4 separate regions of the Homo sapiens genome follow, and all the other regions are linked to region 3. Evidence: fine-mapped expression QTL. A gene starts in region 3. Each other region holds a variant in brackets. All regions are shown on one strand. Distances are between the middles of the regions.

Region 1 (7,556 bases), 120 kb before region 3:
AGTGGGGCTTTTCCCCAGGTTTCCCCATGAAGAATGATGTTTAGTTTTGGGGATGGAGAAGGCCTGGGAGGTTCTTGTTGCCCACCCCACTTCCCAGGGCTGGGATGTCCACAGCGACTCTGGGCCAAGACAGCGCTGCCACTTGCACACCCCCACCTCGAAGGAGCTCCTGCTTCTTCATGAGGCACTCGCGCTCCTTGTCACAGATCTCCCGCCTGTTGTCGGTGGTGAGCCTCTTCATGGCCAGCTCCAGGTCCTCCTTCTGCTTGGCTACAAAGTCCCGGTCCTGTGGGGAGAGAGGAGGACAGGCCTTTATCCAGAGCCGGCTTGGGCACCTCCATGTCTCTTCCTATTATGGGAGAAAAGCCCGCGTGATCAGAGAAGAAAATGCAGGAACAGAAAAGAAATTGGTGGAGGAGAAATTTAAGGGAGACTTAGAGACGCATCAACCAATTTCAACATGTGGGCTTCATCTGGATCCTGGATCAAAGAACAGTCTCGGTCTGTCACCAGAGCTGGAGTGCAGTGGCATGATCTCGGCTCACTGCAACCTCTGCCTCCCGCGTTCAAGTGATTCTCCTGCCTCAGCCTCCTGAGTAGCTGGGATTATAGGTGAGCACCACCACTCCTGACTAATTTTTGTATTTTTAGTAGAGACGGGGTTTCACCATGTTGGTCAGGCTGGTCTCAAACTCCTGACCTTGTGATCTGCCTGCCTCGTCCTCCCAAAGTGCTGGGATTACAGGAGTGATTGGAAACTGGAATACTGACAACATGACGTTGTTCAGCAATTATTGTTGAATTTGCTAGGTGTGTTTATGGTATGGTAGTTATTTCTGTGATGTTTGACAGGTAAAATAATATGATGTCTGGGATTTGATTAAAAAGAATACCTTGGGGTCAGGGAGTGAATGAGTGGACATGAGGTGATATTACTGAGATTAGGTGACAGGTATATGGTAGTTCATTATACCTATTCCCATGTTACTTTTCTTTTTTCTTTTTTTTTTTTTGAGAGAGAGTCTCGCTCTGTCACCCAGGCTGGAGTGCAATGGCGTGATCTCAGCTCGCTGCAACCTCAGCCTCCCAGGTTCAAGTGATTCTCCCATCTCAGCTTCCTGAGTAGCTGGGACTACAGGTGCACACCACCACACCTGGCTAACTTTTGTATTTTTAGTAGAGACGGGGTTTCACCATGTTGGCCAGGCTGGTCTTCAACTCCTGGCCTCAAGTGATCCACCCGCCTCGGCCTCCCTATTCCTGTGTTTTTAATTTTCCATAATAAAGGGTAAAAAAAATTAAAATAAAAAAATTTAGAAACCACGGAATTAGTAAAACTCTCCACTCATCTTATCCCCCAGAGTTGGCAGCTGCGGTAGGTATGTCTATACAAGTGTATCTATAGCTATTGTTATTGCTGTGTTACAAAAATTATTAAAAAGGGCTCAAAGAGATATGTGTGCACCCAAGTTCACAGCAGCATTATTCACAACAGTCAAGGGATGAAAACAGCCCACGTGTCCGTCGATAGATAAATGGATAAATCATGTGTTATATCCACACAATGGAATATTATTCAGCCTTAAAAAGGAAGGAAATTCTGACACATGCAACAACATGGATGAACCTTGAGGACATTACGCTAAGTGAAATAAGCCAGTCACAAAAGGACAAATATTCTATGATTCCACTTACATGAGGTACCTAGAGTAGTCAAATTCATAGGGAAAGCAGAATAAAGTTACCAAGGGTTGGAGGAGAAGAAATGGAGAATTACGGTTTGATGGGTGCAGAGTTTCAGTTTTACAAGACAAGAGAGTTCTGGAGATAGATGGCGGAGATGGCCGCACAATGTGAATAGGCTTAACGCCACTACACTGTACACTTAATAATGGTAAAGATGGTAAACTTTATGTTATGACTATTTTACCACAATTTTAAAAAATTATTTTAAGAAATCTTTCCATGTTATAATGTGATCTTCTGGCCAGGTGCAGTGGCTCATGCCTGTAATCCCAGCACGTTGGGAGACTGAGGCAGGCGGATCACCTGAGGTCAGGAGTTCGAGACCAGCCTGGCCAACATGGTGAAACCCTAACTCTATTAAAAATACAAAAATTAGCTAGGCGTGATGGCAGGCACCTGTAGTCCCAGCTACTTGGGAGGCTGAGGCAGGAGAATTGCTTGAACCCAGGAGGCAGAGGTTGCAGTGAGCTGAGATCGTGCCACCGCACTCCAGCCTGGGCAACAGAGTGAGACTCCATCTCAAAAAAGAAAAAAAAAAAACTGGGATGAAACTCCCAGTTTTGAAACTCCGTCTCAGATAAATAAATAATGTGATCTTCTATCACATGTGTTTGAATGGCTGAAAATATTTCATGCTATGGATGTTATTTATCCAATAAACAACAGGGTGTCTCTAGGTTTTATCTATTTTAAATAGCGCTACTTCATATTCTGGTAGCTAAGTATTTGTGAACCTCTGTGATAACTCCTTCAGGATTTTCAGATTCCCTCAGGATTTCTAGAAGCAGAAAATCCAAGCCAAAGGATGTGTACATCTTCAAAGCTCTCCATGCAACTGCCTCCTCCAGGCCAATCTGCTGTCCCTCTGCGTGGATGAGGGCCTGTGTGCCCCGCCCTCACCAGTCCTGCGTTCTCTTCCTAATCGTGCTGTAATGGGACAGACAGGTCATAGGGTGTCCCGGAGAGAACACAAGCTTGAGGCCTCGACCCCCTCCCTGAATGTGAACTCAGCAATGTTACCTCTCTCAGCCTTTGTTTCCTCTTCTGCGAATGGGAAAATGAACAGCTCCTACCATAGTAAGCTATGAATGCTGAAGCAGGTAATATACAAAGCATTTCTAAATATGGACTCAAAAATTCTTTGCTTTGGGGGCTGAGGAAGCAGAACACACAAAGACCCCCTCGTGGGGGAAAATAGGAGCATTCCGGCAAAGGATGAAAAGAAGGCTGGGGAGGCCGGCCAGGGCACAGCAAAGAGGCGGCGCTTATCTTAGGGACAATGTGGGAGCCACTGAAGGGTTTTAAGGCACAGGGCTGTGGGGGGAAGGGTGCTATTATCAGACTTGGAATTCACATTGATCACACGCAGGCAGGAGAGAAGAAACTGCAGGGGAAAAACAGCTACAGGAAGCCTCGCTGGGAGGCCACTGGACAGTGGCTGGGGGATCATGGAGATGGTGACGAGTTCATAGATCCAGAGACAGGAGATAAGAAATATACATACCATGCTTCTGGAGGTGACGAAGGACTGGAGGGAAAGGAGGCGTCAGGAATGATGGGCCAGAAAGGAAGGAAAATGGCACCCCCTCAGAGCATAACAGGACCAGGTCTGGGACATCACAAGTTTGATGTCCTTCAGACTTAAAAGATGCCAAGTGGGCAGGGGAATATACTGGGTTGGTCAAGGAGATGTGACTTACAAATAAATAACCCTAAAACAAGGTAGGAGGTGCTAAGGGTTTGGGAGGTGGTCAATGTAAAGTGTTGGGGTATCCAGAGATGGAAGAGCTTACTTCCAGATGGAGGCAGGGCAATCGAGGAAGGCTGCATGGAGGAGGGGATAATGGGGCCATGAAGGATGAGGCCAGATTTAGGTATTCAGAACGGGGTATTTGAGGGGCAGGGATTGGGCAAAGGCAGAGAGGGGGCCTGGTCACCATTCCAGGTCTCGCACCAGCCCCTGC[G/A]CTCCCCAGCTGAGGCCAGGGACTCACAAGAAGCTGCTTTTTCTGCGTGTGCTCCTCCATCTTCTGCTTCATGCTTTCCTTCCGCTGCTGTCGGGGGAGCTTCTCCACCTCGTTCTTCACCTGCAGCAGAGACAGCAGAGAGTAGCTGGGTCAGGGTCCTCTCCATGCTTCCTACAGTATAATCTTCAACGCAGAACCCCCGGGCCAGAGAAACCAAAGAAGAGGCTCAGCTTTGCAGCGGCCAGCACCCTACGCGGCTCCCCACCAAGCCCCTCTGAGCAGGTGCTCCACACTGGCCTACTCCTGCCTGCCGCTGGTTTCAGCTTCCAACTCCCCCAGAGTGGGCAGGTGCTGTTTTCAGCAGCTTGGTATCCACCCCCCTCTTCTGGTAACAGCACCTCAGTTTCCTGCAGGGAAGTGTTTCTCAACCTTTTTAAAAAATTACAGTCCCTACAGAAGTTCTTTTAGACATTTTTCCCTAATCCCTCTCCCCCCATGAAATACTAGTCCAACAGACAATATCGTCAATCTGACAAACCATTGTCATATTTCAGTTATTTTGCTTCCTTTAGGGTAACACTAGCCGGGCTGAAAATGCACTTTTTTTTTTTTTTTTTTTTGAGATGGAATCAAGCAATTCTCCTGCCTAAGCCTTCCAAGTAGCTGGCATTACAAGTGTGCACCACCACACCTGGCTAATTTTTGTATTTTTAGTAGAGATGGGGTTTCACCATGTTGGCCAGGCTGGTCTCAAACTCCTGACCTCAAGTGATCTGCCTGCCTGGGCCTCCCAAAGTGCAGGGATTACAGGCATGTGCCACCGCGCCTGGCCGAGAATGCATACTTTAGTATCCCCCTTGTCAGCCCCTGAGGTCCAGGTGAACTGACATCCCTACCCCCGCTGGCCCTGGGCTGAGCATCTGATCCAGGCTGGCCAAGCAGCATATTCCATGCCCTTAGCCTCAGGAACTGATTCAGAGATAAGCACGTGACCCTCACTGGTCCAGTGTGAGCTTTGGGACGTTTGCTGGAACTACTGAAGAAAAGCTACCTGCTGTCCTCTGGGGTTGTTAAACTGGAGGGATGAAGGCCAAGGTGAGTCACCTTGTCAGCCCCTGGAGGGGACTGCCTGAGATGAACTCAGCACAGGGAAGCAATGTCCAGAGATGAGAAGAAGAATCCCTGGCAACACTCCTGCCCTCCTGGTCAGACGCCAGCAAGTGTTCTTTCCTTCTTAAGCCAGCTGGGATTGGGTTTCTGTCTTTTATAACAGGAGGGAGAAGAGATCCATGACACTTCTCTCTAAGGACCTTAGAGTTCCTCAGACAGTTCCTTCCCAAGAAACCCACACCTTCACAGGTGCCTAATAACCCAAAACCTGCATTGACAGAGGGCTCTTAAGAGCATCTGATGGGGGGAAAGGCCCGCCTGTGATCAAAAAGAGAGCATTCCAGGGAGTTCTGGCATGGTGAGGTAAGCCAAGACAGGCTGTGTCTCCTGATAATTACAGTGAAAACTCTGCATCAAATATGAAAGCAGCTACTTGAGGACTCTGAAAACCAAACAAAAGCAGGTGGCACGAAGGGGAGTCAAAACTTGCAGACAAGACTGGTACAGGGGATAAGTTTCCTATTTTTTTTTTCACCCTTTTGCTCTCCTGGCTTTGCACCAATTCCAGACCTGCCCAGTAGTGCAGTAGAAAAGCTGGCTAAAACTCTGTAAGAAACCTTGTGTTTCTGGCCAGAGAACCAGGAAAAGAGGCCTGTGCAGTCCAGTGAGTATGGGATGAATCCCAAAGAGAAGGGCACAGAAGGCCAGGCGGAGTGGCTCACGCCTGTAATCCCAGCACTTTGGGAGGCCGAGAAAGGTGGATCACTTGAGGTCAGGAGTTCAAGACCAGCCTTGGGCAACATGGTGAAACCCTGTCTCTACTAAAAATACAAAAATCAGCCGGGTGTGGTGGCACATGCCAGTTATCCCAGCTCCTTGGGAAGGAGGCATGAGAATCACTTGAACTCAGGCGGCGTAGGTTGCAGTGAGCCGAGATCATACCATTGAACTTCCAGCCTGAGGGACAGAGCGAGACTCCGTCTCAAAAACAAAGAGAAGAGCGCAGGAAAAGGGAAATTCCTAACTGTGTGTGTGAACACAGAGATTCACCCCTGAGCTGAGTATGAGTGAGACAGGTGCCAAGCAGTATAGCAAAAAACAAAAAAAGCAAAGACCCAACTAAACTAACACTGAAACCACTACCCACAGAAGATCAGACAGAACCTGTGGTCTGCAGGGTTTCCTGTTAAACAAAAAACATCTACATTCTTCAAAAGATTATAATACGGACCCACAGTCTACAGAACATAACACTGAAATGTCAGGGATAGCCAGGCACGGTGGCTCACACCTGTAATCCCAGCACTTTGGGAGGCTGGGTGGATCACCTGAGCTCAGGAGTTCGAGACCAACCTGGGCAACATGGCAAAAACCCGTCTCTACAGAAAATATTAATACAAAAAACTAGCTGGGTGTGGTGCCAGTGCACCTGTAGTCTCAGCTACTCAGGAGGCTGAAGTGGGAGGATCACTTTAGCCCAGGAGGTTGAGGCTGCAGTGAGCTGTGACTGCACCACTGCACTCCATCCTGGGCAACAGAGCAAGACCCTGTCTCTAAATAAATAAATAGAATAAATAAATAAATAAATAAATAAATAAATAAATAAATAGAATAAAATGCCAAGGAAACAATAAAAAATTACTCTACATACAAAGAATCAGGAAATAGAACCAATTTTCAAAGAAAAAGGCAATCAATAGATGTCAGCTCCGGGATGACACAGATGTTGGGACTGGCAGAAAGAAACTTTAAAGCAGCTATTATAACTGTACTCCATGAGGTAAAGCCCTTTAATATTTCAAGTATGGAAAGATGAAAGTTCACAGCCCAGAAAAACTATTTTTTAAAAAATTAGAAAATTTAAAACTAAACAATACAATGTCTGAAATTAAAATAAAACAATAGTGGAATGGTGATCACAGAGGAGGGTCATTCATTTGAAGACTGATTAATAAAGATTATATAATATGAATGATAGAGAGAAAAAAAGATGAAAAAGAGGAAGGTTTCAGGAACTTATGGGAAAATTATCAAAAGCTCAATGAAACCCAAACAGGTTAAATTAAAAGAAAACCACCCTCATACATATCATAATAAAACTTGAAAACCAAACACTAAAAAAATTCAGGAGAGTAGTTAAGAGAAATGTGACATATTAACACAGGAAAATAATGACTCCAGTGACCATGGATTCCCCAACAGACACTAGGGAGGCCAAAAGCCACCGGAGTATCATCCTTAAAGTGCTGAAAGAAGGGCCGGGCGCGGTGGCTCACGCCTGTAATCCCAGCACTTGGGGAGGCTAAGGCGGGTGGATCACGAGGTCAGGAATTCAAGACAAGCCTGGCCAAGATGGTGAAACCCTGTCTCTACTAAAAATACAAAAAAATTAGCTGGGTATGGTGACAGGCGCCTGTAATCCCAGCTACTCAGGAGGCTGAAGCAGAGAACTGCTTGAACCCGGGAGGCACAGGTTGCAGTGAGCCGAGATCACACCACTGCACTCCAGTCTGGGCGACAGAGCGAGACTCTGTCTCAAAAAAAAAAAGTGCTGAGATAGGTATGTCTAGTGAAACTATCCTTCAGAAATGAAAGTAAAATAAAGACATTTTCAGATGAAGGAAAGTAGGAAACTTTGTGGTCAGGAAGAAAGGCTACATTGGAAGTTCTTCAGGTTGAAAAGAAGTGAGCTGAGAAGAAAACTTGTATCTTCAGTAAAAAAGAAAGAGTGACAGA
Region 2 (7,556 bases), 37 kb before region 3:
CCCCGACGTCCAGATGAGAAGCCTGGAGCTCAGAGGCACGAAGAGGCGTGTCTGGGGTCACACAGCAGGACAGGGTGCAGGCAGATTCCAATCCCACTCTGTGCATGATCAACTGAAGGAATGAGGGTGTGAGTGACAGGGTGGGGGGCAGAGGGAAGCAGGGCTGGGAGGTGCCCGGAGAGTACTAATGCAGGGGAAGGACAAGGTCAGATGGTGCACTGACCTGACAGGAAGGGCTACATGGACGTGCTTGGTGACATGGTGGGCGAATCCTGGAATGACAATCACCCTTGCTCCTCTGCATGTGAGATAGACAGCCCAGGCCGGCTATTCCAACAGCGGGATCCCAGCAAAGCCCTCAGTTATCCACCTGCTGCTTCACAGCTCCATCTGCTCTGGGCCACCAACCGCACCCGGGTCACTGCCCAAGGGAGCAGCTGGACAGGTCCCCCGGCACAGGCCTCCTCACCACCAAGCCCTGCCAAAAAACATTCTGCCGGACGATGGCCCCTCAAGTGGAAGGGTGGGGGTCACAGATTACATCCTTTGAACTGTTCCCAGTGATGCCCAGAGCCTGGCACCCAGAGAGGGGCATTCCAGGGGGCAGGAGAGAAGGCTTTGGAGCTAGGCAGACCTGGGCTGGAGCCTGGCTCTGACATGTGGGACGAGCCTCTCCACTCCACCGTTCTAACCCTTGGTCTTCACATCTGTAAAATGGGGGTGACAACATCTCAATCTCGAGCCAGGCGTGGTGGCTCACGCCTATAATCCCAGCACTTTGGGAGGCGGAGGGAGGCAAATCGCTTGAGTCCAGTAGTTGGAGACCAGCCCTGTCTCTACAAAAAATACAAAAATTGTCTGGGTGTGGTGGCACATGCTTGTAATCCCAGCTACTTGGGAGGCTAAGGAGGGAGGATTGCTTGAGCCTGGGAGGCAGAGGTTGCAGTGAGTTGAGATCATGCCACTCCACTCCAGCCTGGGTGACAGAGCAATACAAAAGCAAACAAACAAAACTCAATCCCACAGAACTGTGAGGATTTGGTGAGATAGTCAGGAAACAGCCCACCCGGCACAGGCCTAGCACAGAAAACATTCCTGACGAGGCCAACTATCCACATCATCATGTTGCTGCCTCCTTCCTTTTGTTACCACCCCCTGCCTCCTGATTCACCCTCTAGGCCAAGGAGCTGCCAGCCTCCTCCCCCACTTTCCCTCCCTGAGCCTTAGGGTGTCTGTCCCCTCTGTAAAATGGGCATGTCGATACAGTAATAATACACCCACCTCCAGGGCTGCAAAGCCTGTGCAGACTTTAAAGTGCTTTACAAAGTGCTCGTGTGTGTGTGTGTGTGTGTGTGTGTCTGTGTGTGTGTGTGTGTGTGTCCCAACAACCGGGTGCCCCAATCCAGAGAGAGGGCAGGGGTTGGTGAGTGCCAGGGAGCCCGAGGAAGACCAGGTCCCCACGGCAAATGGAAAGGGTTCTGGCACCCAAAACTGCCAAAAAGGGCTGCCCCAGGCCAGGTGACCACAGATCCAGACTTCAGAACTGCAGAGATACAAGGGCCAGGATAAAATGGGCAGACTCCGTTGAAAGACCTCCTTGGGCCGGGCGCGGTGGCTCATGCCTGTAATCCCAACACTTTGGGAGGCCGAGGCGGGTGGATCACCTGAGGTCAGAAGTTCAAGACCAGCCTGGTCAACATGGTGAAACCTCGTCTCTACTAAATATACAAAAAATTAGCTGGGTGTGGTGGCAGACACCTGTAATCCCAGCTACTCGGGAGGCTGAGGCAGGAGAATCGCTTGAACCCAGGAGGCAGAGGTTGCAGGGAGCCGAGATCGCGCCATTGCAGTCCAGCCTGGGCAACAAGAACAAAACTTTGTCTCAAAAAAAAAAAAAAAAAAAAGAAAGAAAGACCTCCTTGGGATCCTCCCTTCCAAGCCCCTAGAGTTATGGATTAGGAAACAGAGGCCCAGGAAAGGAAGCTCATCTCGGGTCACACAGCCAGTTGGTCCCAGGCAGAACTCAGGTCTCCTAGGCTGGGCATGGTGGCTCACGCCTGTAATCCCAGCACTTTGGGAGGCTGAGGAGGTTGGATCACCTGAGGTCAGGAGTTCAAGAACAGTCTGGCCAACATGGCGAAACCCCGTCTCTACTAAAAATACAAAAATTAGCCGGGTGTGGTGGTGCATGCCTGTAATCCCAGCTAGTCGGGAAGCTGAGGCAGGAGAATCGCTTGAACCTGGGAGGCAGAGGTTGCAGTGAGCCGAGATCACGCCACTGCACTCCAGCCTGGGCAACAAGAGCGAAACAACACCTCAAAAAAAAAAAAAAAGAAAGAAAGAAGAACTCAGGTCTCCTGATTCCAGCCCCAGATCCCTTCTGCCACACTGAACAACTTTCTAAAGTACACAGCACTGTCAGCTACTTCCGGGTGTCACATTCTCTTTACAGTTTTGGCTGTTTTGAGGTCAGATATGCAATCTCTGTCAATGACCAAGGGCTGGCCTCTGAGCCCAGGACTACAAGCCACAAAAACCCTGGCCAGCAACGTGTGGTCATATGGGGACACATGTGGACAGCAGGCTCATCCCATCCATGCCCTGCTCTTGATCCTGGGACCAGTACTTCCTCTTTACAGAATGCTCAGTTTGAGGCAAGAAGCCACACTGAGAAAGGCCCACAGTCACTCCTTCAGGGAGGGTAACCACGGCGCCAGCCAACTTCCTCATCAGGAAGTCTTAGGGAGCGTTCTTGGGCTGGGCCACCCCAAAGGGACTTTGGCTGCTCGCGACAGACCCCTGCCCCACCAAGGGCAGGCACGTCCTGTCTCCTTTCATCTCCCCAGTGCATATCTACCATGGACAGATTTCACACCAGGCCCCGTGCCGGGGACCAAAGAGAACAGAAAGTGAAGGAGAGGCACGATGAAGGTGACAGCTGATACTTACCGAAGTTTCTGTGTGCCCAGCCCTGTTATAGACCTTTTCTATTTGTAAACAACTATTAGCTCAATTATTCCTACAGGCACTACTGTGAAGATCCCCATTCTACAGTTGAGAAAACTGAGGCACAAGGACAGAAGGAATTGGCTCTGGTCTCACAGTAAGTGGCAGGCAGGAGACGGATTGCGAACCTGCAGGCTTCAGAGGCCGACCTTTGCGTTTTTCTTTTTTTTCTTTTTCTTTTTTTTTTTTAATTGAGTCAGAGTCTCACTCTTGTCACCCAGGCTGGAGTGCAATGGCACAATCTTTGGCTCATTGCAACCTCCACCTCCCGGGTTCAAGTAATTCTCCTGCCTCACCCTCCTGAGTAGCTGGGATTACAGGCACACGCCACCACGCCCGGCTAACTTTTGTATTTTTAGTAGAGACGGGGTTTCACCATATTGGCCAGGCTGGTCTCAAACGCCTGATTCGTGATCCACCCACCTCGGCCTCCCAAAGTGCTGAGATTACAGGCGTGAGCCACTGCGCCCGGCCCACTTCACAATTTTATATCCATCCTGATCACTGCTGGAGTTATGTGTTCATGCGCTGTTAGTTGTCTCCCACATGTAGACTGGAGGCTCCATGAGGATGAGGACCGTTTCCCTCTTGCTCACTGATGAATCCCCAGCCCCCACCATGGGGCCTTCCACTTAGTAGCTGCTCAGCAGCATGTGCTGCAGACAGTCTAGCCTCGGTTCACGTTACTCTGCCGCTCTCCCTCCACCACGCGCCAGCCGCAACACCTTCTGTGGGGTCCTCTGCAGACTCCTGCCTCAGGGCCTGTGCACTTCTGATTCCCTCTACCTGGCACTTTCTGC[C/T]CCCACACATTTGGAGGTCTGCCTCCATCTGGTCTTTTGGCTCTCAGCTAAAATGTCACCTCATGAGAGAGGCTTTCTCTGTCCATCGTGTTTACAGCACCTGCTCCTGACCCTACCCAGGAATGCCTACTGCATTTCCCCACTGATTTTTCTTCCACTCACTTGTCACTTGCCCAAGTCCTCTCATCTACTTCTTCACTGGCCTTCATACCGTCTGTTTCTGCCACTAGACTTTGAGCTCCGTGAGGCCAGAGGCCTTCCCAACTCTGTTAATGACATCGAGTTGGTAGCTTGAAACTGATCAGGTGGACATATGTGCATTCAGAAATGGGCCAAATGCCAGACACCAGAGCTTTTCTTCCCAAAGAACTCACTCTTGCTCCTGTAATACATGTTGGAAAAGAGATCCCCCGGCCATTGAAAGATTTGCCCAGAGACCAAAATCTGGCTCAGGGCTGGGGGTGGAGGATGGGGGTAGCTATTAGCAGAGGACATTCACGAGGTCAGCCCAGGCCTTCTTGCAGTCACTCATTTTGGGCCCTGGGAGTCATCTAGAGCTTCACTGTCTATGCCGTCCAATATGGGAGACACTAACACATGTGCTACTGAGTGTTCGAAATGTGGCGACGGTAGAGACCTAAATGTATTATTCCATTCTCTTCTAATTCATTTAAATTTGAAAACTGAGACTTGGTTCAGTTACTGGGAAACGTTTAAGAATGTTGGAACAACTTGGGTGTGTGAATCTACCTTTCTCAACTGTAAATTTTATGACATCTAAACACAGATCAAGGACTTCTGATGAAAATTTAGCTCCCAAATTTAGATGTGTTAAAAGTGTAAAATATACACTGGACTTGAAGACTTAGAATGAAAAAAAGTAAAATAGCTCAATAACTCTTTCAATGGATCACATGTCAAAATGATCATATTTTTATACACTGGGTTAAATAAATTATATTATGGAAACTAATTTCATCTGTTTCTTTTTGCTCTTTTGGATGTGGCTGTTAGAAATGTAAAATTATACATATAGGCCTGGTGCAGTGACTCATGCCTGTAATCCCAGCACTTTGGGAGGCTGAGGCAGGCAGATCACCTGAGGTCGGGAGTTCAAGACCAGCCTGACCAACATGGAGAAACCCCATCTCTACTAAAAATACAAAATTAGCCAGGGGTAGTGGTGCATGCCTGTAATCCCAGCTACTCAGGAGGCTGAGGCAAGAGAATCTCTTGAACACAGGAGATAGAGGTTGTGGTGAGCTGAAATCGCGCCATTGCACTCCAGCCTGGGCAACAGGAGCAAAACTCCATCTCAAAAAGAAAGAAAGAAAGAAAGAAAGAAAGAAAGAAAGAAATGTAAAATGATGCATGTGGCTCACATTATAGTTCTACTGGTCTAGAGCATTTTGGCTTGTTTTTCTCCAACTTGCACCATTTGATATTCAAAAGCAGAAGTAGTGATAAGGAAGCACAGACGGATTTTGCCATGATTACAAATTCTGAACAAAAATGAGCTAATCTTGTCAAATTGCACATGGGGTGGTGTGGTGAATGACCTCCACCCCACTCGGGGGAAAGTCTGTCCCTGTCTGCCATGGCTACAGAAGGGACCTAAGACACTTGGGGAACAGCCAGTTTCTCATCCCAAAGTCCCTGAGAGCAGACCCCAGGTCCAGAACTGGTTTTGTCAAAGATATCCACATGGAAAAGTGGGCTCCTAAAGCCACAGGGGCCCAGGCCTGGTCACAAGATGCGCCTGAGAACCATCACACAGAAGGAAATATCAAAGGGTTGGTGCATCCTTCAACCTGTATCTCTGGACTTCTCCCTTCTACACTTTTGCCCATTTGCTGGTCCCTCTACTTTGACTGTTCTTCCTTCTCTTATCTCCCCAGAGGACTCCTATGCATTCTGCAAGACCCCGTTCAAATGTCCCTTCCTCTGAAGCCTCCCCTGACCAGATGATGTTCCACATCACATCCTTGGGCTTCTGGCCTAGTCTATTCTTACCACTTCTCAAACTGCCTCCACGTTTTTCTCTTGTCCTCTCAAACCTGACTTCTTTCTGTAACACAGAATATGCCTCTCCCCTGCAAAAAAGTACCACTGGGTCTCCATTACCTAAAACAGTGATTCTCAAGCTTAAACGAGCATCAGAGTCACTTAGATTGCTGGGCCCTACCTTAAAACGCCAATTGCTGGGCCTCACCTCAGTTACTGACTCAATGGGCCTCAGGAGGGGCCTGATAACCTGCATGTCTAACAAAGATCCAGGGTGTGCTGATCCAAGGGTTGTACTTTGAGAACCACTGCAGTAAAAGATGGAGGGATAAGTCTTCACCTTGGCATGCAGGGCCTTCTACAACATGGCCCCCAATTACTTTACCACCCTCATCTTTCACCACATGCTGCCCTGGCCCTAGACTAGCCACCTCCCAAACAGGCTGTACCTTTCATGCCTCCACACCGCTGCCCACGCTGTCTCTCCTGCCTGCCATCCTTTCCCCCTCTTTATCTACCCAGCTCCAGGGCCACCTTCCTTGATCTCATAGTGTCTAAAAGGCAAATCGGAGGAGCTGGGGCCTTCTACAAAGTAACAAATGTAGGCTGTCAGGGCAGCTACAATAGAGGAGGGAAAGAAATGGTCTTGGCCACAGCAGTGGGCCTGGAGGAGAAAGCACCAGCCTAAAGTGACAATTTAGGGACGGAAAAGTCTAGCGTATTTATTTAAACAACAGCATGACAGTCGCAGTCTAGTTACAAACTGTGTTTGGCTCTACCTGGTTTTCCAGCTCTGCCACTTGCTAGCTGTGTGGCCTGGGGAGCAGCTCACATAGCTTTTTTGTTTCTCATTTTCTTTTGTAAGATGGGATAAAGCAACAACCTCACAGAATGAAGATTAAACCACATAATGCAAGTGAAACTCATAGCAAAAGGCCAAGCACACAGTAAACTCTCAATAAATGCTAGCTACTATAAGTAGTATCTTTGGACCTGGGAAAGTTATGAACTTGGTACCCAGCCACAATCAATAACAGGAATAGAAACATAATAGCTATTTTTCTTAATGGGTACATAGTCAGCAGGCCAACAAATGCTGTATGCACAGAGAGGAAGATGAATGGACAGAAAGTGGGTGGCTGGGTGGGTGGGTGGGTCAATGGGAGATCTCCTTTGGTTAATATCAAAAGTGGCTCTGTGAGGCCAGTTTGGCAATAGACATTAAAGACTCTTAAAAATTCTCGCTGGGCACAGTGCCTCACGCCTGTAATCCCAGCATTTTGGGCAGCCGAGGCAGGTGGATCTCCTGAGGTCAGGAGTTCAAGAAGAGCCTGACCAAGACGGTGAAACCCCGTCTCTACTAAAAATATAAAAAGCAGCCAGGCGTGGTGGCATGCACCTGTAATCCCAGCTGCTTAGGAGGCTGAGGCAGGAGAATTGCTTGAACCCAGGAGGCGGAGGTTGCAGTCAGCCGAGATCGTGCCACTGCACTCCAGCCTGGAAAACAGAGTGAGACTCCATCTCAAAAAAAAAAAAAAAATTCTCATAAAAAAGCTCTCAGAGGACACACAAAAAAATCCAAAGATGTCCATCACAGAGTTGTTTATAAGAGCAAAATAAAAATAAAAATAAAAAAAAGAAAGAAAGAAAAGGAAATAGCCTAAATGCCCAACAGTAGAGAAGGGCACAGTCAGAAGATGGATTTCTTTGGAAGAATTAGAAAAAAAAAAAATGAAGAGGACTGGG
Region 3 (7,556 bases):
ACCTGGCCCTGGAGTCACTTTTTTAAAAACTGACTTTCCACGTGCTTTGGAGAACCAAGAGGAGACAGTATCGATTGTGGATCGGATGAGTTCCTTTGTATGAAACTTTCAGAGTAGCAGGGGAGTCTTAAGGGACTAAAGCAGGAGGAAACACAACTGAAAATGACAAGGGGAAATCTTACCAGCATGAAAGCAAAGTTCTGCGTTTAAGTTTAAAGGAAGATGAACCCTGTGAAGCCAGGACACACTGCGGGGAAGGGGACAAGAATGCAATTGAAAGCCCCTAACGGAGAAAAAAAAAAGCCCATATGTTTGTTTTGTTTTGTTTTGTTTTTGAGACAGAGTCTCGCTCTGTCGCCAGGCTGGAGTGCAGTGGCGCTATCTCAGCTCACTGCACCCTCCACCTCCCTGGTTCAAACGTTTCTCTTGCCTCAGCCTCCTGAGACGCTGGGATTACGGGCATGCATCACCATGCCCGGCTAATTTCTGTATTTTTAGTAGAGACAGGGTTTCACCATGTTGGCCAGTATGGTCTGAATTTCCTGACCTCATGATCTGCCTGCTTCAGCCTCCCAAAGTGCTAGGATTACAGGCGTGAGCCACCACGCCCGGCCCAAAAAACCCATATGTTTAGCATACGCTAAAAACACCAACTGAACCTTCTGGAGAAAGTGGGTCCTGTGGTGAGCTGACCACAGGGGTCCAGCTGCCCTCACAGTAGTCAGAGCACAGCTGCAGGAGCAGGCTCTGTCTAAGGCAGTCAAGGACACTGGCAGTGTCCAGAGACAGTTGCAAGGCTGAGGATCGTTCTCTGGTGCCACCAGGAAGAAGATGCAGCTCTGAGGAGAGTAAAGAAAAGACGTGCTGAGGACAGGGTGAGCTGGCTGCCCTCAAATATGGGCAAGGCCCTCAGGCAAAGGAGGACAGCAAGTCGGGGCAGTCCAAAAGCACTGCCTCTCGGATCACAAGACCTCTCCCTACCCCATAACAGGAAGTGTGGGCTCAGAGGGGAGGTGGCAAGGAAACAAAACAGGCACCAGGCCAGGCACAGTGGCTCACGCCTGTAATCCCAACACTTTGGGAGGCCGAGGTGGGTGGATCAACTGAGGTCAGGAGTTCGAGACCAGCTTAGACAACATGGTGAAACCCCGTCTCTACTAAAAAAACAAAAATTAGCCAGGCATGGTGGTGTGTGCCTGCAATCCCAGCTACTTGGGAGGCTGAGGTAGGAGAATTGCTTGAACCCAGGAAGTGGAGGTTGCAGTGAGGGCCGAGATCAAACCACCGCACTCCAGCTTGGGCAATAGAGTGAGACTCCGTCTCACAAAAAATAAAAATAAAAAAAGACACTGAGTGGGCCTGGTTGGTCTCAAAATTGCCACCGCTCCAGGTCAGGCAGGGTGGCTCACCGCTGTAATCCCAACACTTTGGGAGGCTGAAACGAGCTGATTTCATGAGCTCAGGAGTTCATGACAAGCCTGGGCTACGTGGCGAAACCCCAAGTCTACAAAAAATACAAAAATTAGCCGGGCTGTGGTGTGCACCTGTAGACCTAGCTACTCCGAAGGCTGAGGCAGGAGAATTGCTTGAGCCCAGGAGGCAGAGGTTGCAGTGAGCCGAGATCGGGCCACTGCACTCCAGACTGAGCAACAGAGGGAAACCCTGTCTCAAAAAAAAGAAAAGAAAAAAGAAAAAACGCCACCACTCCAAGCCTCTAGGGCAGTACTTCTCAAACCTATTTGCTTAGGAATCACCTGGGATCTTATTAAAACGTAGACTCTAATTCAGCAGGTCGGGGCTGGGCATGAGATTGTTCACTTCTGACAAGCTCCCAAATGATGCTATTATAACACCGGTCATCTAGGAACTACTTCGGTAACTAGGCGATAGACCACTTCCAAGTCAGAGGAGAAGGCCTGGAGAAGCCTTCTCTGTGGTCCAGCCTCATAGAACGGCAATCCTAGGGTCAGAGTGCCCTACAAGCTACAGGAGCCCCAAGGAGGAGGATAGTGGCTTAGAAGAGAGGTGCTCTCCTGGAGGTATACACCAATTTAACAAGTGGGCGTCTCCCAGTAAAAATTTTCTTAGGGGAAAGGGGGGAGTCAAGCTGTAGGTGTTGGCTCCCTAAAACAACTCACCACCTCAGAATTAGCTCCCAGGAGCAGAAACCAACGTCCTGCTGCCACACTTCTCTAGACTCAATCAGCTCTGCCCCACCCACTCCACAAAAGCTCTCTGCCGCGTCTTCCTCTAGGGGAGAGGTGACTGCAGGCTGGGAGACTCCCCAGCTGTGACTCAGACCGACGGAATCAAATCTGTTCCCCCAGGCTCAGCATTCACCAGATCCTGACCTCCCCCTCTGACCAGCCCCAACCCACCTTTCCAAGCCCCACCTCTCAGTCCATGGGCCACCCCTCGCCCACCCCACTTCCCTGTCTCTGGCTCATCTTCAGATGTGTCCCTAGCTCCCAACCCGTCCAAGCGCAGCCGAGTTTCTCGGTCCACATCGCCTCGATATTCCCACAGCATCTGTGGTCTCTCTTAAAAAAAAAAGTGTGCCCGTATCGCCGTTTTACGGAACGTCCCTGGAAGGTCCCTCGAGTGGCCCTCTCGGATGCTGAGGTCCTGTCAACGCCCCTTTGTCTCCCCGTGCGGCGCCGAGCGCAGTGCAGGACACACAGGAAGTGCTCCGAAACAGGGCTAGGGTGGGGGCGGCAACCGTGCCCGGAGGGGGCGCCCAGAGCGCAGGGACTCGGCCGGGCCGAGTGATGTTCCCCCCAAAAAACAAGAGTCATCGGGATGAGGGCCAGGGACCCCGAATTCAGCGCCGGGCAGCCCTCGGAGCCGGAGCCAGGCTGGCCGGGTCCGGCTCAGGCATCCCTTCCTTCCGGAGCCCCTCGACGCGCGTCCGGCCACCCACCTCAGCGCCCTCACCTTGTAAACCTTGCCGAAGGCGCCGTCGCCCAGCTCGCCCACGATCTCCCACACCTCGTTGGGGTCCAGGTCGCGGCGGACGTGCTCATATTCGCGGGACTTTCTCTTCTCGAAGGTAGACAGGCGCAGGATGCGGCGGAAATTGGCAAAAGCCATGGCCGGGGGCGCGGTGGCGCCGGCTCGGGCTCGGGCTCGGGCTCGGGCTGTGGCTTCGGCGGCCGCGAGGAGAAGGAGGAGGAGTTGGAGGACGCCGCGTCTCTCGGGGTTCTCCCCAGACCCGCCTTTCCCCGCAGCCCGACCTCGGTCAAGTGTGCCCTGGGCAGCGCCGCGCCGGGAGCACCCGGAACCGCGCAGGCGGCGGCGTGCCCGCCCCCGCCCCCGCCCTGTCAGGTCCCCAGGGCCGCCTCCCTTGTGCCGGCCTCGCAGCTCCTGCCCGGCCCAGCCCTGCCTGCGAGAGCCTCGGACCCGTTCCAGGGGACCGTCCCCGCGCCCGCCCACCGGCCCGGCTCCACCCGCCGCTCCCCGGCAGAGCCCCGGGACCCCCTAATTGGCTGCGGGCGCTCCCCGGCTCCGCCCGTCGCCGCAGGGCACTCTGGAAACTGTAGTCCCCCCACACCACGCTCCGCGAGCCGCGGGCTGGGCTTTGGGGAAGCTTCGGGGACCGCTCGGTGGGACCGCTCATGGACTCAGGAGCCCGCCCGCCGCGCCGCGTGGCTCCCAAAACTTTTATGGGAGCAAGCGGGACGGCGACTTGGCATTTCGCGAGAGCCCACGGATCGTTGTCAGCGCCCAGAAGGTGAACCTGCACTCGTTCATTTAATCCTCCCGCAGCTATTCCGCTAGGCTGCCCTCGCCCCCACTTTTCCGATGGGGACGCCGGCAGGCGAGGGCACTCGCCCCAGGCACACACGCTGGCTGCCCGTCTGCTGCGGGTTCCTCGGCGCGGTGCTGCCTCCTAGTGTGCGACGGGCAACGCCGGTGCAGCCGCGGCCAGTCCCTGCAGGGCCCGGCTTCCCGGCGCGGTCCTTTCCAGGGGCTCCCCGTCCACGATCCACAAACCTGCCAGGATTAGAGGGCTGGGAGAAAGAGCTCCTTTGGCACTGATTTCTCTTATGTTTCCTGATGGGTTTGCGGATGTATTTGCATATTAAATAAAAACTTTATTCTAATTTTTAATTTCCTAGTTTCAAAAAAGATGAGCGCACTACATACAGATCAAACTAAAGTCTTCTTTGAGCACCTTCATTCTCGATCCTGGCTACTTGAGTCACTTCACTGCTACTGTTGCCTGTTTGTCCTATAGACGGTTATAACATGCTTTTACCTGAATCTAAGGAGAGTGCTGGGGGTGGGGGGGGGGGGCGGGCAGTCTGCAAGGGTTATTATTTGGACCGTGTCATAAACAAGTTGAGTCTTCGCAAATGTCACAGTTCAATAGCTCCAACCCCAGAGAACGGCTGTGTTGAGGTGTTTTCGCCCCTTCCTCGGTGCTTTGTTCGAAAACATCCTTTGAACAGTGTGCAAACACCAAGCATGGTTTTCCACTGGGAAAGCCAGCTCAAGAAGCCTGCGATGCTGGTAGTGGTCGGCGCAGAGGGTGTCCTGGTTGCTAAGCCGTTCGGAATGTTTCCACAGCTGCAGGAGTGCCTGGAATTGTAGAGGGTCTTTAAAAGAAGGAAACGCCGCTCGTCGCTGACCGTTCTCATTGAGTCAGGCGCTGTCTGAACCTCCCAAAACATGCTGAAAGGCAGGTCTTTCATTTGTTTCAGACCATTTGGCCAACTGTACGAAGCGGGTGGGGAGACCAAGAGGGTTGCTTCCATACTAGGAGATGAAGGCTCTGACTCCACGAAAGCTGTAGGCCTGGAGGGCTCTGACCAGCTCTGAGAGCTCCAGAAAAGCAAGCAAGCGAGAGAAAGAGAGAGAGAAAGGAAAGAGAGAAAGAGAGAAAGAAAGAAAGAGAAAGGGAAAGGAAAGGAAGAAAGAGAGAAAGGAAAGAGAGAAAGAGAGAAAGAAAGAAAGAGAAAGGGAAAGGAAAGGAAGAAAGAGAGAAAGAAAAAGGAAAGGAAGAGAAGGAGAGAGAAAGAGGGAGGGAGGGAGGGAAGGAAGGAAGGGAGGGAGGGAGGAAGGAAGGGAAAGAAAAACGGAGAGGTTCATTCATTCAATAACACTAAGTCAAAGAAGCCAGACACAAAAGGCCCTGTGTTCTATAAATTTCCATTTATATGAAATGTCTGGAAAAGGCAAATCCATACAGACAGAAAGTAGATTAATGGTTGCCTGGAGCTGGGTGTGAAATGGGAATTAACTGTACATGAACAATAAACAGTCTAATTGGGGTGATGAAAATGTCCTAAAACTGCACAATGGTGACAATTTCATAATTTGGTAAATTTGCCAAAAATAATTGAATTTTAAACTTTCATTTTTGTAAATGGATGAATTTTATGTGTAAATTATACCTCAATAGCATTGTAAGAAATACATTGAGGTTCAATAGAATCAAAGCTACTTCTTTGAAATAACTAATAGACAAGACTAGTCAAAGAAAAAGAAAAAAAGGGTCGGGCACGGTGGCTCACACCTGTAATCCCAGCATTTTGGGAGGCCAAGCTGGGTGGATCACCTGAGGTTAGGAGTTCAAGACCAGCCTGGCCAACATGGCAAAACCCCAGCTCTACGAAAAATACAAAACTTAGCCGGGCGGGGTGGTGCACGCCTGTAACCCAAGCTACTTGGGAGGCTGAGGCAGAAGAATCACTTGAACCCAGAAGATGGAGGTTGCAGTGAGCCGAGATCGTACCATTGCACTCCATCTAGCCTGAGCAACAGAGCAAGACTCCGTCTCAAAAAAAAAAAGAAAAGAAAAAAAAAAAATTGGTGCAAGAAAGAAATATTCACTGGAAGAAATAAAAAATGAAAAGAGAACATCAGATTAGATACTGTAGAAATTTTGATAATCATAAAGTGATATTTTAGACAAATTTATGTGAATAAATGTTTTAATTTACATAAAATGGGTAATTATTGAGAAGAAAATATAAATGATAGGTAAAAGATAATTTCAATAAGAAATAAAAACCTAAATAAACTAGTAACCAATAAAGAAATCAAATCAAGAATCAGGCCGGGCACAGTGGCTCATGCCTGTAATCCCAGCACGTTGGGAGGCTGAGGCGGGTGAATCACCTGAGGTCAGGAGTTCGAGACCAGCCTGGGCAACATGGTGAAACTCTGTCTCTACTAAAAATACAAAAATTAGTCGGGTGTGGTGGTGCGTGCCTGTGGTCCCAACTACTCATGAGACTCAGGCACAAGAATCCCTTCAACCTAGGAGACGGAGGTTGCAGTGAGCCGAGATCACACCACTGCACTCGAGCCTGGGCAACACAGTGAGACTCTGTCTCTAAACAAAAACAAACAAACAAAAACCCAAAAAACAACAACCACAAAAATCAAGAATCAAAAGCTTGTTCTTGGTGAAAGACATCAGTCTGTGTGGTTTTACAAATAATTTCTTTCTTTATATAAATTATTTTAAAAGATAGAAAATGAAGGAAATCTGCCAATTTATTTTATAAGATGAGTTTTACTATTACTAGATAAGGACAGTAAAAGAAAATTGTAAGCCAGGCACAGTGGCTTACACCTGTAATTCCAGCACTTTGGGAGGCTGAGGTGGGAGGATCACTTGAGCCCAGGAGTTCCATACCAGCCAGAGCTATAAAGTGAGACCCTGTTTCTACAAAAAGTCAAAAAATTAGCCAGGCGTGGTGGTGCACACCAGTGGTCCCAGCTACTCAGGAGGTTGAGGCAGGAGGATTCCTTGAGCCCAGGAGGCCGAGGCTGCAGTGAACAGTGATCTCACCGCTGCACCAGCCTGGTCTCCAGTGAGACCCTGTCTTAAAAAGGAAGGGAAGGAGAGGAAAGAGAGAGAGAGAAAGAAAATTGTAGACTAATTTCATTTCATTTTTTTTTTTTTTTTTTTTTGACAGAGAGAGTCTTGCTGTGTCGCCAGGCTGGAGTGCAATGGTGTGATCTCACCTCACTGCAACCTCCACCTCCCAGATTCAAGCGATTCTCCCGCTTCAGCCTCCCAAGTAGCTGGGACTACAGGAACGTGCCACCACGCCCGGCTAATTTTTGTATTTTTAGTGGAGATGAGGTTTCACCATGTTGGCCAGGATGGTCTCAATCTCTTGACCTCGTGATCCGCCCGCCTCAGCCTCCCAAAGTACTGGGATTACATGTGTGAGCCATCACGCCCGGCCTAATTTCAGTTCTTAAAAAGACAGGGAAAATACAAATGCTAGCAAGATCAAACCAGAGGTGAATAAAAATATCGTAACCACAAAAGGTTTATCCAGGAATAAAAGAATGGTTCTACATCAGAAAATCTACTGTAATAGCACTGCATTGGCAGAGTAAAGGAGAAAAATCACATAGTCTTAATAGTCACAGAAAAAGCATTTTATAGTATTCTTAGGTTGGATTCCCTTAGAGACTGACCCTGAGGCAAGGATTTGAGTGTAAGTGGTTTATTTGGGAGTGAGTAGGGAGTAGAAAATTAAGACAGAGGAGGGGCTGGGCACCATGGCTCACACCTGTAATCCCAACACTTT
Region 4 (7,556 bases), 55 kb before region 3:
GGATGATACACCCTAACCCTCATGGGAATGATAAGCTCATCCAGGCCTTGACACGTGCCTGGCCCCAGGTCGGGACTCAGTTATGTGAGCTGTCACTATGATTCTTTCCTTGAGTTCATGGGTCTGTTTTTCTCATTTATTTTTGTTTGGGTTTTTTGAGGCTCTGTGAAAGCCATCCTCTCCCCTCTCACCCAGAAATGTTCCTGTGCCATTCTATTGAATCCTTCCACATCCTGAAGTTCCATCACCAAACCCTGGCTGGGAACCCCTGGTTAGCCTCCCTAACACCTACCATCTGTATGGCCTTGGACAACCGCCAATCCTCTCCGTAAAATGGGCTAATATTACGTGGCTCTAGGATTTACTGTAAGGAACAGATGAGGTGGTACTTATAAAGACCTAGTCCTAGGCTGGGGGCAGTGACTCACTCTTGTAATCCCAGCATATTGGGAAGATGAGGCAGGCAGATCACCTGAGGTCAGGAGTTCGAGACCAGCCTGGCCAAAATGGCAAAACCCCGTCTCCACTAAAAATACAAAAAGTAGCCAGGTGTGGTGGCGGGCACCTGTAATCCCAGCTACTTGGGAGGCGGAGGCAGGAGAATCACTTGAACCCAGGAGGCGGAGGCTGCAGTGAGCGGAGATCACACCACAGCATTCCAGTCTGGGTGACAGAGCAAGACTCTGTCTCCAAAAAAAAAAAAAACCGAAAAACCCAGTCCTAATACACCGTGGATATGTAACAAGGTCAGACACTTCCCGCTTCTCCAACAAGGTGCCAACACAGAGGAAAAGATTGTAAACCTGGGGTCGAGTCCTGGTGTGCCACTTAATTGACTACATGACCCTGGATAAGTCAATCTCCCTGAGCCTCCATTTCCCCATCTGTAAAATGGCCTAATCATCTCTTGCCTCCAACTTCATTGAGAAAGTTAAATGAGATTCCTTACATGAAAGAACAGCACAAAAGCCACACAGTTAATATGTGTTTGTTAAATCTCTACCAAATGAAATCACCAGTAAGTTTCATGCTTAGATCACGTCACTTAGGATTCCTACAAAAATATGCCTTCCTCTCAGTCTGATTCCTAGGGAAAACAAAACAAAACAAAGAAATGTCTTCCCAGAACTACAATTTCTTTATGTATTTATTTATTTTTGAGAACTAAAAGTTATGGACATGCCATCAGCTGTTTTTTTTTTTTTTTTTTTTTGACAGAGTCTCACTCTGTTGCCCAGGCTGGAGTGCAGTGGCGCGATCTTGGCTCACTGCAAGCTCCGCCTCCCAGGTTCACGCCATTCTCCTGCCTCAGCCTCCCGAGTAGCTGGGACTACAGGCGCCCGCCACCACATCCGGCTAATTTTTTGTATTTTTTGGTAGAGGCAGGGTTTCACCGTGTTAGCCAGGATGGTCTCGATCTCCTGACCTCGCGATCTGCCTGCCTCAGCCTCCCAAAGTGCTGGGATTACAGGCGTGAGCCCCCGCGCCTGGCCTGTCATCAGCTATTCTTAAGAGTCAGTATGAGAAGTGACCAAACCCAGGCAGTTCCTGCATCTTTCAGTGAAACTGTCCCTTACACAACACTCTTATACAACGTCCCTGTGCCCTCTCCAGAGGTCAGCACCAGGAAAGCTCGTGCATTCTGACAACCTGGCTTGCTTCCTCTTCTTTAGTTCAAGAGCTCCACAACCCCTTGAGCTTCCCTTTTATTTATTTATTTTTTTGCCTTGGCTGCTGGGAAGCTCTGGGTTAAGTTCCTCAGCTTTGGTTTGACTCCCAGGCCTTACTTGCTTTTTTTAGTATCTGGGTCTTAACATTTTTACCTTCAGCTTATCAGTGGCAGGAGGGCTACAGGGGATTGGTATTATAAACTTGTCAGGGCTTTTTGCAGAAATACATGGGGTTTAATTAATAAAACAATAGTCTCAACAGTAACAGATAAAATAATAGTTGAATGTATCTCCCAAAAGGCATGTGTTGGAAACTTAATCCCCAATGTAACAGTGTTGGGAGGTGGGACCAACAGTAATGGGAGGTGTTTAGACCATGAGGGCTCCACCCTCATGAATGAATTAGTGCTGATTATAAAAGGGCTAGAGGCTGTGAGTTCAGTTGCTGGCTCTCTCCTGCATGCCCTCTTGCTCTTTCCACCTTCCACGATGGCAAGAAGGCCCTCGCCAGATGCAGGGCCCTCAACCTTGGACTTCCCAGCCTCCAGAGCCATGAGCTAGATAAATTTCTATTGTTTACAAATTACCCAGTGTCAGGTATTCTGTTATAGCAGCATAAAATGCACTGAGACGATGGTAATAAATATGAATAAAATAATAATCTCAATGCTTTAGGAAATTACTACATATGCATGCTTAGAAAAAAGACTGGAAGCACAAAACCCATAGGAGGATTACAGGTAGTTTGTACTTTTATGTATTATATTCAATAAATATGTATTATCAAATTGTATATTAGAAATAAACATGACTTTTAAATTTTTAATTTTTTTAATTTTTTTAATTCAACCTAGGGGCTTTAGTTTTTTTTTAATGGAAAGAACTGGCCTAGAATAACCTACTGCTACAGATACAGCTATTCTTCTGATTGGGATGGGGAATCCGTGCCCACCCGTGATGAAGGTCCCAGTGGTCCAGTCCCCTGCTTCCTGGATAAAGGGAGGCTCCTCAGGATCGGAAAGCTAAAGGCCTCTAAGCCCTGATCAAGTCCAAAGTGAAACCGCCCCAGTGCTAAAAGGACGGATTCCCTGAACCTGTCAAGGGCATAAGCAGCCTATATTTGCAGGTGGCTCACGGTTTTCCTAGGACCTGAAGAACTGAGATTTGTGGTCAGTTTAATGCATTGATCATTATAAACTGAGTGTCTACCAGGGGCCCTACTTTGCTAGGCAACAGTAGGGGACACAAAAGTAGTATGTGATCAACAAACACTATCTGAGCTCCTAGTGCGTGGCAAGCCTGGGGACTGAGGACCCAGGGAGAATCAAACAGGTCCCTGCCCCAAAATCACCAGCTGAGGGAGATATAGAAATGAGTGGTGCAGGCACACGGTGACTATGTAACCCAGAAGCCTGTGGACACGGTCATTAACCTGCCTTAGAGCTATCCCAGAGGAAGCAGATATCCAGGCTGAGTTTTGAAGGGTGAATTTACCACGTGGGGAAGGGTAAAGGCACTCCTGGCAGAACACAGAAGCAGAGGTGGGGCAGCAGGGAAAAGCGTGGAAGCGGGTAATGGCGGAGCATTCCATGGGGTTCCAAAGGATGGGAATCCAGCAGGCTGGAGGTCAATTAGAACTAGAACTTGAACATCTCAAAGTATGAACCTAATCTGGAGAGCTGTGTGTGCGTGTGTGCGTGTGTGTCTGGGGAGATACACCAAAGGGTTTAAGCAAGAGGTGTTGTAGACAGGCTTTTGCTTTGGAAAGATCCCTCTAGATGCATTATTAAGGAAAAAACAGTGGGTTGGGGACAAACAGCGAAGAGGCCATTTCATGAGTCCTGATGTCCTGGGCACCATGGCTACCTCCCCCTCCACATACACCATGTCTTCCTTCCCCTTTGTGAAATAGCCATGAGAACTGGGTAGGACTTACTCATCCCCTGCAAGGGAGGGGTAGAAGCAGGGTGCTAAGCCAGTCAGGAAAATTTTCTGCCTCGTGCCCTGACTCAGGGCTGGTGTCATCAGAGCTAAGCTGGTGAGTTGTGCTTGATGG[T/C]GTGGAATGCCACGTCGTCTCACTCTGGAGCTAATTAGGAAGCACACAACTCTGATGGTTGCAGGAAACCATGTTGCAACCACGAGAGAAGTGGGTGTGAAGACAAAGCTAATACACAGAGGAAGACAGAGAGAATCACAGGAAAACGGAGAACAAGCCTGCTCCCTACTGACTTTTTAGGCAGAATATGCAAACGAATTAATTTCTGCGCTGTTTAGTAGGTTAGTTTAAGGTTTGCTGTCACTTGTTACCAAAAGTACCTGATCCCACGCTTGGCAGGAGATGATGAGTAACCACACTCTCCAGGTGGCAGACTCCAGGTTGTACCAGCTGAAAATGCTACACCAACGGCTCTCCAACTTGAACGTTCAGCAGAGTGCTTGTTAAAACAGATCACTGGGTCCCACTCCAGAGCTTCTGATTCAGTGGGTCTGAAGCAAGGTCCAAGAATCTGGTTTCCAACAAGTGCTCAGATGCTGCTGCTGTTGCTGGACCCCTGGTCACACTTTGAGAACTACTGCTCAATGGGAATTTATAAGAGCAAGAGGCCTGGACCCTGGGACCACATCTGTCCTCCCCTTAACAAAAGGCACTGTAAGATGTTGGTAGAGAAACTTGGGGGCAAACTGGCAGAAGTACTGCCTCTTTTATGCTCCTTGTTATCCTAAATTTCATCACCAGTGTTCCTTTTTATCTTGCCTCAAACCAAAGAGTGAGGGGCTTTGGTAGGATGTATGATCATCCTCATCAGCCTTTACCAAGAGATGGTTTGAGAAGCCCTGAGTATTCACACAGAAGCTTTGGGGATCTTCATTATTAAAGACCGTACTGCAGTCTGTTTCAATGAGTTTTTTAAAAAAATATTTCCATATCCTCCCATCTTTAAATAAAAATTTTGAGGACCTCTAAATATGTGTCAAAGGGTATATGGGGGTTAGTAAAAGACCAGATGGACAAAAATGACACCAAAAGCACAAGCAACCAAAGAAAAAATAGATACCCTGGACTTCATCAACATTGAACATATTTGTGCATCAAAGGACAGTATCAAGAAAGTAAAGGCTGGGTACAATGGCTCACGCCTGTAATCTCAGCATTCTGGGAGGCTGAGATGGGAGGATCACTTGAGCCCAGGAGTTTGAGACCAGCCTGGGCAACATAGGGAGACCTCATATTTACAAAAAAAAAAAAAAGGAAAAAAATTTTCATTAGCGGGGTATGGTGGCACACACCTGTGGTCCCAGATACTTGGGGGGCTGAGGTGGAAGGATCATTTGAGCTTGGGAGGTCGAGAATGCAGCGTGCAATAATTGTGACACTGCACGCCAGCCTGGGAGAAAGAACAAGACTTTATCTCAAAAAAAAAAAGAAAAAGAAAAAGTAACCCACAAATGGAAAATATTTGCAAATCATATATCTGATAAAGGACTAGTATCCAGAATACATAAAGAACTCATAGCACTCAAAAATAAAAGAGCAAATAACCCAATCTTAAAATAGGCAAAAGATTTGAATAGATGTTTTTCCAAAGAAGATGTACAAATGGCCACTAAGCATATGAAAAGATGCTCAACATTACTAGTCATTAGGGCAACACTAATCAAAACCAAAATGAGATACCACTTCACACATGCTAGAATGCTCAGAATTAAAAACATGAACAAGGCTGGGCACGGTGGCTCACGTCTGTGATCCCAGCACTTTGGGAGGCTGAGGTGGGTGGATCACCTGAGGTCAGGAGTTTGAGACAGCCTGGCCGACATAGTGAAACCCTGTCTCTAATAAAAATACAAAAGTTAGCCAGGTGTGGTGGCACACGCCTGTAGTCCCAGTTACTTAGGAGGCTGAGACAAAAGAATCATTTGAACCTGGGAGGCGGAGGTTGCAGTGAGCCAAGATCACGTCACTGCACTCCAGCCTGGGAGACAGAGCGAGACTCCATCTCAAAAAACAAAAGATAAACAACAGTAAGTGTTGGCAGGAATATGGAGAAATTGGAACCTTCATACACTGATGGTGGTAATGTAAAATGTGCAGTCCAGGCACTTTGGGAGAGTCCGGCAGTTCCTCAATATGTTAAACGTAGCATTACTATTGATCCAAATGGCAATTCCCTCCTACATATAGATCCAAAAGAATTTTTAAAATATGTTCATTAGCTAAACAGACTAAGTTAAAAACTCAAATTATGGCCAGGCACGTTGGCTCACGCCTATAATCCCAGTGCTTTGGGGTGGATCACCTGAGGTCAGGCATTCAAGACCAGCCTGGCCAACATAGAGAAACCCTGTCTCTACTAAAAATACAAAAATTTGCCAGGCTTGGTGGCACACGCCTGTAATCCCAGCTACTTGGGTGGCTGAGGTATGAGAATCGCTTGAACCCAGGAGGTGGAGGTTGCAGTGAGCCGAGATCACACCACTGCACTCCAGCCTAGGCAACAGAGTGAGACTCTGTCTCAAAATAAATAAATAAACAAACAAACAAAAGAAAGAAAAAGAAAAAAAGAAAAAAAAACCTCAAATTACTACAATCAGAAATGAAAAAGGGGACACATTACTACTGATTTGACAGAAAGGACTATCAGAGAGTACTATGAACAACTGTATGACAACAAATTGAATAAACTAGATGAAATAGAAAAATTCCTAGAAACACAACCTGGCAAGCCTGGATCATGAAGAAACAGAAGACCTGAATAGATGTAACTTCTAAGGAGACTGAACAGTAATTTAAAACCTCCACACAGGCTGGGCGCAGTGGCTCACGCCTGTCATCCCAGCACTTTGGAAGGCCGAGGCGGGTGGACACGTGAGGTCAGGAGTTCGAGACCAGCCTGCCCAACATGGTGAAACCCCATCTCTATTAAAAATACAAAAACTTAGCCAGGTGTGGTGGCAGGCACCTGTAGTCCCAGCTACTCGGGAGGCTGAGGCAGGAGAATGGTGTGAACCCAGGAGGCAGAGCTTGCAGTGAGCCAAGATCGCGCCACTGCACTCCAGCCTGGGCGACAGAGCGAGACTCCGTCTCAAAATAAATAAATAAATAAATAAATAAAGTAAAGAAGTGAAAGAATAGCTATTCCATAGGCAGAGCATGGCATTCCAAAAAATAAGAGGAGGAATGTGCCCACCTAGGTACAATGCTTGCTTATATATAACAAAAATCATGGAGGAGATGTGCTCTACTACAAGGGTTTGTGATAAAGGATTGCTAATCTTTGTGTAACTACTGTCTTTCATGAGAGCCTTTATTATTATCTATTTTTTTTTTTTATACTTTAAGTTCTGGGATACACGTGCAGAACATGTAGGTTAGTTACATAGGTATACACATGCCATGATGGTTTGCTGCACCCATCAACCCATCATCTACATTAAATATTTCTCCTAATGCTATCCCTCCCCTAGCCCCCCACCCCCGAACAGGCCCCGGTGTGTGATGTTCCCCTCCCAGTGTCCACGTGTTCTCACTGTGCATATATTATTATCTTTAAAGTGAGACTTATTTTAAAACTAGGAATGTTTTTGTTCTTAAGATATAAGGACATCAGGACAGTTCCTGGGTCTGTTATATCCTGGGTCTGTTTCTGTTCCCTTAACTATAAACGTCTTAGGGCTAAGAATACCTAACCTCTTGAGAATGTGGCCCAGCAGGTCTCAGCCTCATTTTACCCAGCCCCTATTCAAGATAAAGTCACTCTGGTTTGAATGCCTCTGACATACTGATGCAAAGATACTCAACAAAATACTTGCGAATCATATTCAACTATTAAAAGAGAGATTACACCATGATCAAGTGGGATTTATTCCTGGAATGTAAGGATGGTT

The links.
Region 1: its variant is fine-mapped to the expression of STK10 in whole blood (TOPMed, PIP above 0.99).
Region 2: its variant is fine-mapped to the expression of STK10 in whole blood (GTEx, PIP 0.92).
Region 4: its variant is fine-mapped to the expression of STK10 in monocytes after LPS (Quach 2016, PIP 0.95).

The regions. Positions count from the first base shown.
Region 1 is chr5:172,060,983-172,068,538 of GRCh38, forward strand. STK10 (serine/threonine kinase 10) reads right to left here. Exons shown (of 19, transcript NM_005990.4): 13 at 3,738-3,830; 14 at 157-286. Among named protein-coding and RNA genes, the nearest start is that of FBXW11, 58 kb to the left of the region's middle. RefSeq lists an enhancer at 5,787-5,836. The variant G/A (reference allele first, on the strand shown) is at 3,711.
Region 2 is chr5:172,148,164-172,155,719 of GRCh38, forward strand. The region is part of intron 2 of STK10 (serine/threonine kinase 10); the gene reads right to left. Among named protein-coding and RNA genes, the nearest start is that of STK10, 36 kb to the right of the region's middle. RefSeq lists enhancers at 2,645-2,704, 2,715-2,924 and a silencer at 3,409-3,584. The variant C/T (reference allele first, on the strand shown) is at 3,807.
Region 3 is chr5:172,184,953-172,192,508 of GRCh38, forward strand. It overlaps STK10 (serine/threonine kinase 10), which reads right to left and starts at 3,272. Exons shown (of 19, transcript NM_005990.4): 1 at 2,935-3,272. The coding sequence starts at 3,090. RefSeq lists enhancers at 5-54, 1,095-1,144, 1,415-1,464, 2,125-2,204, 3,257-4,032 and silencers at 2,665-2,744, 2,875-2,924, 3,225-3,584.
Region 4 is chr5:172,129,841-172,137,396 of GRCh38, forward strand. All of the region lies in intron 2 of STK10 (serine/threonine kinase 10), which reads right to left. Among named protein-coding and RNA genes, the nearest start is that of STK10, 55 kb to the right of the region's middle. The variant T/C (reference allele first, on the strand shown) is at 3,727.